2 separate regions of the Homo sapiens genome follow, and region 2 is linked to region 1. Evidence: fine-mapped expression QTL. Tissue or cell type: whole blood. Region 1 holds a variant in brackets; the other region holds the start of a gene. All regions are shown on one strand. Distances are from middle to middle. Region 1 has its middle 4.3 kb from the start of GFM1. Region 2 holds the start of MLF1 (myeloid leukemia factor 1).

What was found. PIP is the estimated chance that this variant, and not a neighbour inherited with it, causes the effect.
Region 2: MLF1 starts here. The variant in region 1 is the best candidate, but not a certain one, in a credible set for the expression of MLF1 in whole blood (INTERVAL, PIP 0.76).

What each region holds. Positions count from the first base shown.
Region 1 is chr3:158,638,094-158,642,452 of GRCh38, forward strand. No RefSeq gene overlaps it. Among named protein-coding and RNA genes, the nearest start is that of GFM1, 4.3 kb to the right of the region's middle. The variant C/G (reference allele first, on the strand shown) is at 2,784.
Region 2 is chr3:158,569,042-158,573,436 of GRCh38, forward strand. MLF1 (myeloid leukemia factor 1) reads left to right here and starts at 2,153. Exons shown (of 8, transcript NM_001369783.1): 1 at 2,153-2,306. The coding sequence starts at 2,260. MLF1-DT (MLF1 divergent transcript) reads right to left here and starts at 2,025. Exons shown (of 5, transcript NR_104147.1): 1 at 1,130-2,025.

The DNA of each region.
Region 1 (4,359 bases):
ATATCCTTGATGAACATTGATGCAAAAATCCTCAATAAAATACTGGCAAACCAAATCCAGCAGCACATCAAAAAGCTTATCCACCATGATCAAGTGGGCTTCATCCCTGGGATGCAAGGCTGGTTCAATATACGCAAATCAATAAATGTAATCCAGCATATAAACAGAGCCAAAGACAAAAACCACATGATTATCTCAATAGATGCAGAAAAAGCCTTTGACAAAATTCAACAACCCTTCATGCTAAAAACTCTCAATAAATTAGGTATTGATGGGACGTATTTCAAAATAATAAGAGCTATCTATGACAAACCCACAGCCAATATCATACTGAATGGGCAAAAACTGGAAGCATTCCCTTTGAAAACTGGCACAAGACAGGGATGCCCTCTCTCACCGCTCCTATTCAACATAGTGTTGGACGTTCTGGCCAGGGCAATCAGGCAGGAGAAGGAAATAAAGGGTATTCAATTAGGAAAAGAGGAAGTCAAATTGTCCCTGTTTGCAGACGACATGATTGTTTATCTAGAAAACCCCATTGTCTCAGCCCAAAATCTCCTTAAGCTGATAAGCAACTTCAGCAAAGTCTCAGGATACAAAATCAATGTACAAAAATCACAAGCATTCTTATACACCAACAACAGACAAACAGAGAGCCAAATCATGAGTGAACTCCCATTCACAATTGCTTCAAAGAGAATAAAATACCTAGGAATCCAACTTACAAGGGATGTGAAGGACCTCTTCAAGGAGAACTACAAACCACTGCTCAAGGAAATAAAAGAGGATACAAACAAATGGAAGAACATTCCATGCTCATGGGTAGGAAGAATCAATATCATGAAAATGGCCATACTGCCCAAGGTAATTTACAGATTCAGTGCCATCCCCATCAAGCTACCAATGACTTTCTTCACAGAATTGGAAAAAACTACTTTAAAGTTCATATGGAACCAAAAAAGAGCCCGCATCGCCAAGTCAATCCTAAGCCAAAAGAACAAAGCTGGAGGCATCACACTACCTGACTTCAAACTATACTACAAGGCTACAGTAACCAAAACAGCATGGTACTGGTACCAAAACAGAGATATAGATCAATGGAACAGAACAGAGCCCTCAGAAATAACGCCGCATACCTACAACTATCTGATCTTTGACAAACCTGAGAAAAACAAGCAATGGGGAAAGGATTCCCTATTTAATAAATGGTGTTGGGAAAACTGGCTAGCCATATGTAGAAAGCTGAAACTGGATCCCTTCCTTACACCTTATACAAAAATCAATTCAAGATGGATTAAAGATTTAAACGTTAGACCTAAAACCATAAAAACCCTAGAAGAAAACCTAGGCATTACCATTCAGGACATAGGCGTGGGCAAGGACTTCATGTCCAAAACACCAAAAGCAATGGCAACAAAAGCCAAAATTGACAAATGGGACCTAATTAAACTAAAGAGCTTCTGCACAGCAAAAGAAACTACCATCAGAGTGAACAGGCAACCTACAACATGGGAGAAAATTTTCGCAACCTACTCATCTGACAAAGGGCTAATATCCAGAATCTACAATGAACTCAAACAAATTTACAAGAAAAAAACAAACAACCCCATCAAAAAGTGGGCGAAGGACATGAACAGACACTTCTCAAAAGAAGACATTTATGCAGCCAAAAAATACATGAAAAAATGCTCATCATCACTGGCCATCAGAGAAATGCAAATCAAAACCACTATGAGATACCATCTCACACCAGTTAGAATGGCAGTCATTAAAAAGTCAGGAAACAACAGGTGCTGGAAAGGATGTGGAGAAATAGGAACACTTTTACACTGTTGGTGGGACTGTAAACTAGTTCAACCATTGTGGAAGTCAGTGTGGCGATTCCTCAGGTATCTAGAACTAGAAATACCATTTGACCCAGCCATCCCATTACTGGGTATATACCCAAATGACTATAAATCATGCTGCTATAAAGACACATGCACACGTATGTTTATTGCGGCATTATTCACAATAGCAAAGACTTGGAACCAACCCAAATGTCCAACAATGATAGACTGGATTAAGAAAATGTGGCACATATACACCATGGAATACTATGCAACCATAAAAAATGATGAGTTCATGTCCTTTGTAGGGACATGGATGAAATTGGAAACCATCATTCTCAGTAAACTATCGCAAGAACAAAAAACCAAACACCGCATATTCTCACTCATAGGTGGGAATTGAACAATGAGATCACATGGTCACAGGAAGGGGAATATCACACTCTGGGGACTGTGGTGGGGTGGGGGGAGGGGGGAGGGGTAGCATTGGGAGATATACCTAATGCTAGATGACGAGTTAGTGGGTGCAGCGCACCAGCATGGCACATGTATACATATGTAACTAACCTGCACAATGTGCACATGTACCCTAAAACTTAAAGTATAATTAAAAAAAAAAAAAGAAATCTGTGGAATGACTCTCATAACTCAGAAACTCTGGCCAGTGATCCACCTTTAAAAAGCTATCTCATTTCTGTGTATAAGAAGGTGTGTGTGCTCTGTGTGCATCTCCTCACGGAGCTGTGTGAACAGATGTGAGTTAAGGGCACGTACTTTAATGTGGTTGATAATTTTAATCACATCCTGCAAAACGTTAAGTTCATTTGATACTTTCTGGCTAGCTAGCATTTCTCTATGGACGACTCAGTGTGTAGACTCACATTCAGAAGCAACCTCTTTGACCCGAATAGTGAAACCAGAAAGCTGTCCAGTCATGGCAGCTGCTCTGTCGGT[C/G]CATAAACTGACACAAAATAACCAATTCAGTTTTGCTATGTAATCATTCAAAGACTTGACTAGTTCTGCCGCTGTGGTGTTGGTTGGCAACAAAAGTGCACATAACATATCCTCATGCACATCCACCTGAAAAATCACACAAAAACAAGCATTGTTGACTTGTTGTCAACCTCAGTAAATTAATCAACCTGGATTTTGTACCAGAGTGACCCATTAATCCTTTCTTTTCTTTTTTTTTTTTGAGATTGAGTCTCGATCTGTCACCCAAGCTGGAGTGCAGTGGCATGATCTTGGCTCACTGCAACCTCCGCCTCACGGGTTCAAGTGATTCTCCTGCCTCAGCCTCCTGAGTAGCTGGGATTACAGGCGCATGCCACCATGCCTGGCAGATTTTTGTATTTTTAGTAGAGATGGGGTTTTACCATGTTGGTCAGGCTGGTCTTGAACTCCTGACCTTGTGATGCGCCCGCCTCGGCCTCCCAAAGTGCTGGGATTATAGGCATGAGCCACTGCACCCAGCCCCATTAATCCTTTCTAGTAATTGTGCCTCGATATCCTCTGCTATTTCATCATTTCCTCTAATTATGGTGCTAGCCCAAAGAGGCACACGTGCCACCTTTTGAACTGCAGCATCTCCTAAAAGTTCATGACAAATGTCCTTAGCAGCAGGCAGGTTCAATTCTCCAGTAGTAAAGAGCTTCTTAGCTTAGCAATGCTGTTAGCCACTAAGAATGACACTGTCAATGCAGACACATTTGATGGAAGTGGCGGCCTTCAATAATTGCTTCTGTTCTTCGTGTCCACATTTTTTCTTTTGAAAAACTCCAAAGGCTTCTCTTTTTATGTAGGGTGCTTGGTCTCCATGTGGCGAAGCAGTTTTGAAGGTTTCATGGGTTTGTTGGATAGCCGCTTGCCACATATTATATAAAGCAGGCTTGGAGAATGTGAATCACCTGTTGCAGTGAACCTGCAATTTAAGTAGGACTCTAGGTATTTTCTTTCACATGCAGCTTTCCTTTTATTAGCAGTCTTAGAGTTTTCCATTTTCTCATCATTGGGTCTTTCCCCATTTTCAAAGAAGCTCTCCAGTGACATTTGTTTTTTACTCGTTTTGGCTAGAGTTAGGTTGTGGGCTTACCAAAACTGTGACTGAGGCAAGTGCTCAGTGTGGGAAGGAAGCGCGGACGGAAGTGGTAAATAAAATAATGGGCGGGCCACGCAAGACTTTAAAGCCTGCCATCAGATGCAACTGTACAACTGAAATACATCAACTCACTTGCCACTATAAAGCTTGCCACCAGTGCAGCTTTTGTCACTTGACACTCACTGACAGGGTTTTGATATGAATCTGCAAGCAATTGATTTATTATGGTCTCTGTGCAGTCAAACCTCTTTGCTAATGTTAATCTGTATTTGCAGCTGTTCCCCAGCCCTAGCGGCCACACCTTAGCTCCACCTCAGGTCATCAGGCATTAGATTCTCATAAGGAGTGCGTAACCCAGATCCCTTGAATGGATAGTTCACAAGGGGGTTCACACTCCCATGAGAATCTAATGCCACTGCTAATCTGACAGGA
Region 2 (4,395 bases), 69 kb before region 1:
TCAGTTCAATTACTAGCTGTGTGAACCTTGGCAATTTATTCAGCTTCTCTGTGTCTTGAATGCATCATCTATACATGGGGATAAAAGCCATCTCTACTCCATAAAACTGCTAATGAGGATTCAATGAGGTAATGCATATGGAGTGCCTACAACAGTGCCTGGCACACATTCAATAAATATTAGCTATTATGATTATATTTACAGCCAAGTCCAGGACCCTCTCCTCTCAGTCCTGTTCTGCATCTCTATTCCTCCCATGCTGGAGTATTCATTCTCTCCTGACCCACGCTTTCTTTCATTTCCACCTCTTACCCATCAGTTCTGAAAATGATGTCAAGGTCTCTTCAGTGCCAACTCTGCTCTGCCCTCCTTTTTTTTTTTTTTTGCATTTGTCATTAGATCCAAACTGCTTTCACAAGGTTCAGCTAATTCCCTGACTAACCTGTGCCTGGACTAAAGCTTTTATAACAATGTGATTCTAAAAAAGTTCCCACAGAAACTAGAGGGTAACATTACAAATTTACTTGGCCTTAATCCAGAACTATTTTAACACCATCTTTTATCACATAACTTACTCCATTTCAAGTTTTTTTTTAAGTGTGGCCTCCTTCACATCTTGTGCTTATACTATTTTAAAGAGAAAAACAATTTAAGGTCTTATAAAACAATTTTGTTTGCCTTGAAATTTATTTAGAAATTTTCGAAATTTTGTGTATATGTTCTCTGAGCTTTATTCTGAGTCCAGAGGAAAAGAAAATATCCTCTTTCCTGGATGGGCTGTGCCATCTCATCTTGGGCTGTGAAGTCTGCCCTACCCCATGCCACCAGTCTCAGGGGAAGGAAGCTGCCAGAGAACTTGGCTAAAAAAGGGGGATGGGGAGTAAAAGATCCAAACGATTAAATTTCCAGCTCTCAAAATAACCCCTGACTACTCCTGTCACCTCCAAATCAGGGCTTGCACACTTCTTCATGCTGGCAAAGTGCCACCCCTCTGGCCTGATCCCAGGGGGCCCTGATGAGCTATGGACGCCCCTTTATCTCTGCAAGACAGCCACGTAGAGAAGCTGGGGAGCTCACTGAATTAAGGGTGGACATGCAAGATGTATTTTCTCTTTTCTTATACTCTTACCATTCTTCTCCTTAATCTCTCTTCTGTCTTCCCCTCCATCTGTCTCCAGGCTCCTGAAAGGCCCCGTGATAGTGTTTTCTAAAACTTAGTAATTTGAGTACCACTATCACGATGTTCCTCTCCCCTGCTCTGCCTACCCCTCCGCCCCACCATATCCAAATTCCACCTGTTCTATTTGATAGCTTACTTTTTCACTTAAAAATGCAAAATCTAGCTCTTGATGTATATCACTGATTTAAATTTAAAATCAGTTTCCTTGCCATAAATAGAAAGCTCCCTGATAAATGTAATGCAAATAAAAACATATAGTAGTGGAATTTTAGTTGGATATGGCTGCTTGCTGCAGGCCTGTGCCTGAAACCTGCTGTTAGGTTAAGAAATGCTGGAGAAGTGTTAAAAACATATCAGCATCGCAGTGAGACTTGATCTTTGAAAGAGAGACACAGAAGGACAACCGAAAAGAGAGCAGCTTTCTCAAGAGGTAAATAAGTTTGTTGAAATCTGATAGGCTTCATCCCATTTCCTTCAACAACTGAGTACACTATTTGCTAACTGTACTAAAAAACGTTTTGCACATTTTTTCTTATTATTTGCTCACAGCTTTTGACTACCAGAGAATGTTTCGGATACAGGACTAATTCCTGTGGATGACAGAATGCGACCGTTGAATGGGACATTGGGTGTCATCTGGTCCAAATCTTGACCCCTTTTCATTTTCCCCGAAAGAAAGACTTGCGGCTCGGAACCGAGGGCGGCATGCCCAAGGTCACAGAAAGGGTGGTCTAATGTTTTGGTTCCTGCAGCCCAGAGAACAAGCTATCCCATCCCACAGGAGCCTTGGCGAAAAGCTCCCCGGCCGGCGCAAGGCCAGACTTCTCGCCTCCACTGTGTTGATTGCGGTTGCCAGGGCAGCGGCGCATTGCTCCCCGCCTCGTCCTGGTGACGTCACAGAGCAATGTCCAATGGGAAAGCAGCTCGGTGTCACGCACCTCCTATCCCGGCGGGCACCGCCTGCGCCGCGGCGAGTGAGGCGTCGTCCGTACTGGAGGCTAGCTCTTGTCGCGGCCGCGGCGAGTTAACATCGTTTTTCCAATCTGTCCGCGGCTGCCGCCACCCAAGACAGAGCCAGAATGTTCAGGATGCTGAACAGCAGTTTTGAGGATGACCCCTTCTTCTCGTGAGTTACGGGAGCCAGGAGTCCGGGGTCGCGCGGGAATTAAGGTATCGAGGGGAGCTATTTTAAGGGAAAAGAGCGAGTTTTAGAGGGCGAGAGAGAATTCGGAGTAACTCTGGAGGCGGTTTGAAGGAGACGAGGATTTGGAGGCCTGGGAGGGAAGAGAGAGGAGGATTTAGGGGTGTGTGAGACAGGGAAGAGACGGATTTGGGCGCATGAGGTGGAGAGAGGAGGGTTTGGACGCGTGAGGTAGGCGGAGGGAAGTTTGGGGGCGTGAGGTGTGGGGAGGAGAGTTAAGGCTGGGAGTGGGGGGAGAAGAGTTGAGGCCGGGAGGTGGGGGGAGGAGAATTGAGGGCATGAGGTGGGGAGAAGAGGTTGAGGGCGTGAGGTGAGGGAAGGGTTTGGGAGCATGAGGTGGGAGGGAGGAGGGTTGAGGGCGTGAGGTGAGGGGAAGGGTTGAGGGTGTGAGGTGAGGGGAAGGGTTGAGGGCGTGAGGTGAGGGGAAGGGTTGAGGGCGTGAGGTGAGGGGAAGGGTTGAGGGCGTGAGGTGGGGGAAGGGTTTGAAAGCGTGAGGTGGGGGGAGGAGGGTTGAGGCTGTGAGGTGGGGGGAGGGTTTGGGAGCGTGGGGTGGGAGGAGGAGGGTTTGGGGGAGTAAGGTGGAGGGGGGAGGGTTGAGGGTGTGAGATGGACGAAGGAGGATTTGGGGGTGTGAGGCGTTTGGAGGAGGGTTGAGGGCGTGAGGTGGGGGGAGGGTTTGGGAGCATGAGGTGTGGGGGAGAGTTGAAGGTGTGAGGTGTAGGAGGAGGGTTGAGGACGTGAGGTGGGAGGAGGATTTGGGAGCATGAGGTGTGGGGGAGGGTTGAGGGTGTGAGGTGAGGGGAAGGAGGGTTTTGGACCGCGAGGTGGGGGGAGGAGGGTTGAGGGCGTGAGGTGGGGGGACGGTTTGGGAGCATGAGGTGCAGGGGAGAGTTAAGAGCTTGAAGTGCAGGGACGAGGGTTGAGGGCGTGAGTTGGTGGGGAGGGTTTGGGAGTATGAAGTGCAGGGGAGGATTGAGGGCATGAGTTGGTGGGGATGGTTTGGGAGCGTGAGGTGGCGGTAAGAGGGTTGAGGGTGTGAGGTGGATGGAGGAGGATTTAGGGGCTGAGGAGGATTTGGGGGCATGAGGTGTGGGAGGAGGGTTGGGGAGAAGGGTTGAGGGCGTGAGTTGGTGGGAAGGGCTTGAGAGCATGATGTGGGAGGAGGGTTGAGGGCGTGAGGTAGGGGGAAGAGGTTTGAGGGTGAGAGGTAGTGGGACGAGGGAGGGTTGGGGCGTGAGGTGGAGGGAGGAGGGTTTGGGGGCATGAGGTGTGGGGAAGAGGGTTTAGGGGCATGAGGTGTGGGGGTAGGAGGGTTGAGGGTGTGAGGTGGACAGAGGAGAGTTGATGGCGTGCAGTGGGGGGAGGAGGGTTTGGGGGCGTGAGGTCGCAGGAGGATGGTTGAGGACGTGAGGTAGAGAGTTGAGGGCCCCAGGTAGGGGGAGGAGGATTTGGCTGCATGAGATGGAAAGAAGGCCCTTCCTCACACTCCCGGGGTGCCTGCTGCTTTCCATTTGGCCGGACTTTGGGTGCCCGTCATGGCTTCCTGTGTGCAGAGTTGGCCTTTGCAGCTTCAAGGGCTTTGCAGGTGACATAACTACCATCTCGGTGAAACTTATGGTGAGAATTATGTTCACATAATTGCAAATGGGAGCAGGGAATATTTTATAGCTCCTCTTTAAATTCCAAATAGGAACAGGTAATATTTTATAGCATGACAGTTCATTGAAAAGGGGAAGTTTTTAAAACAGCATTTTCCATGTGAGTGGGGAATGTGTCAATGAGAGCACGACAAAGTTGGAGAGTTGTGCTTTCTCTTCGAAGTTGTTGGAAGTTGCCATGCCAATTGCGCTGTTTTCTTTGCTCGCTTTGTTACAGAGCTAACCTTGTTTGTGAAGGGACTCCGCTTTCTGTCAAAACTAGAAATAGGACAGGGAAGCTGATGGGGCGGGGCGGGGGGAGGGGGGCGGGAGGAGGGCGGCGGGGGGGGGGGGGTGTGTATTTAACACCTCAGGTA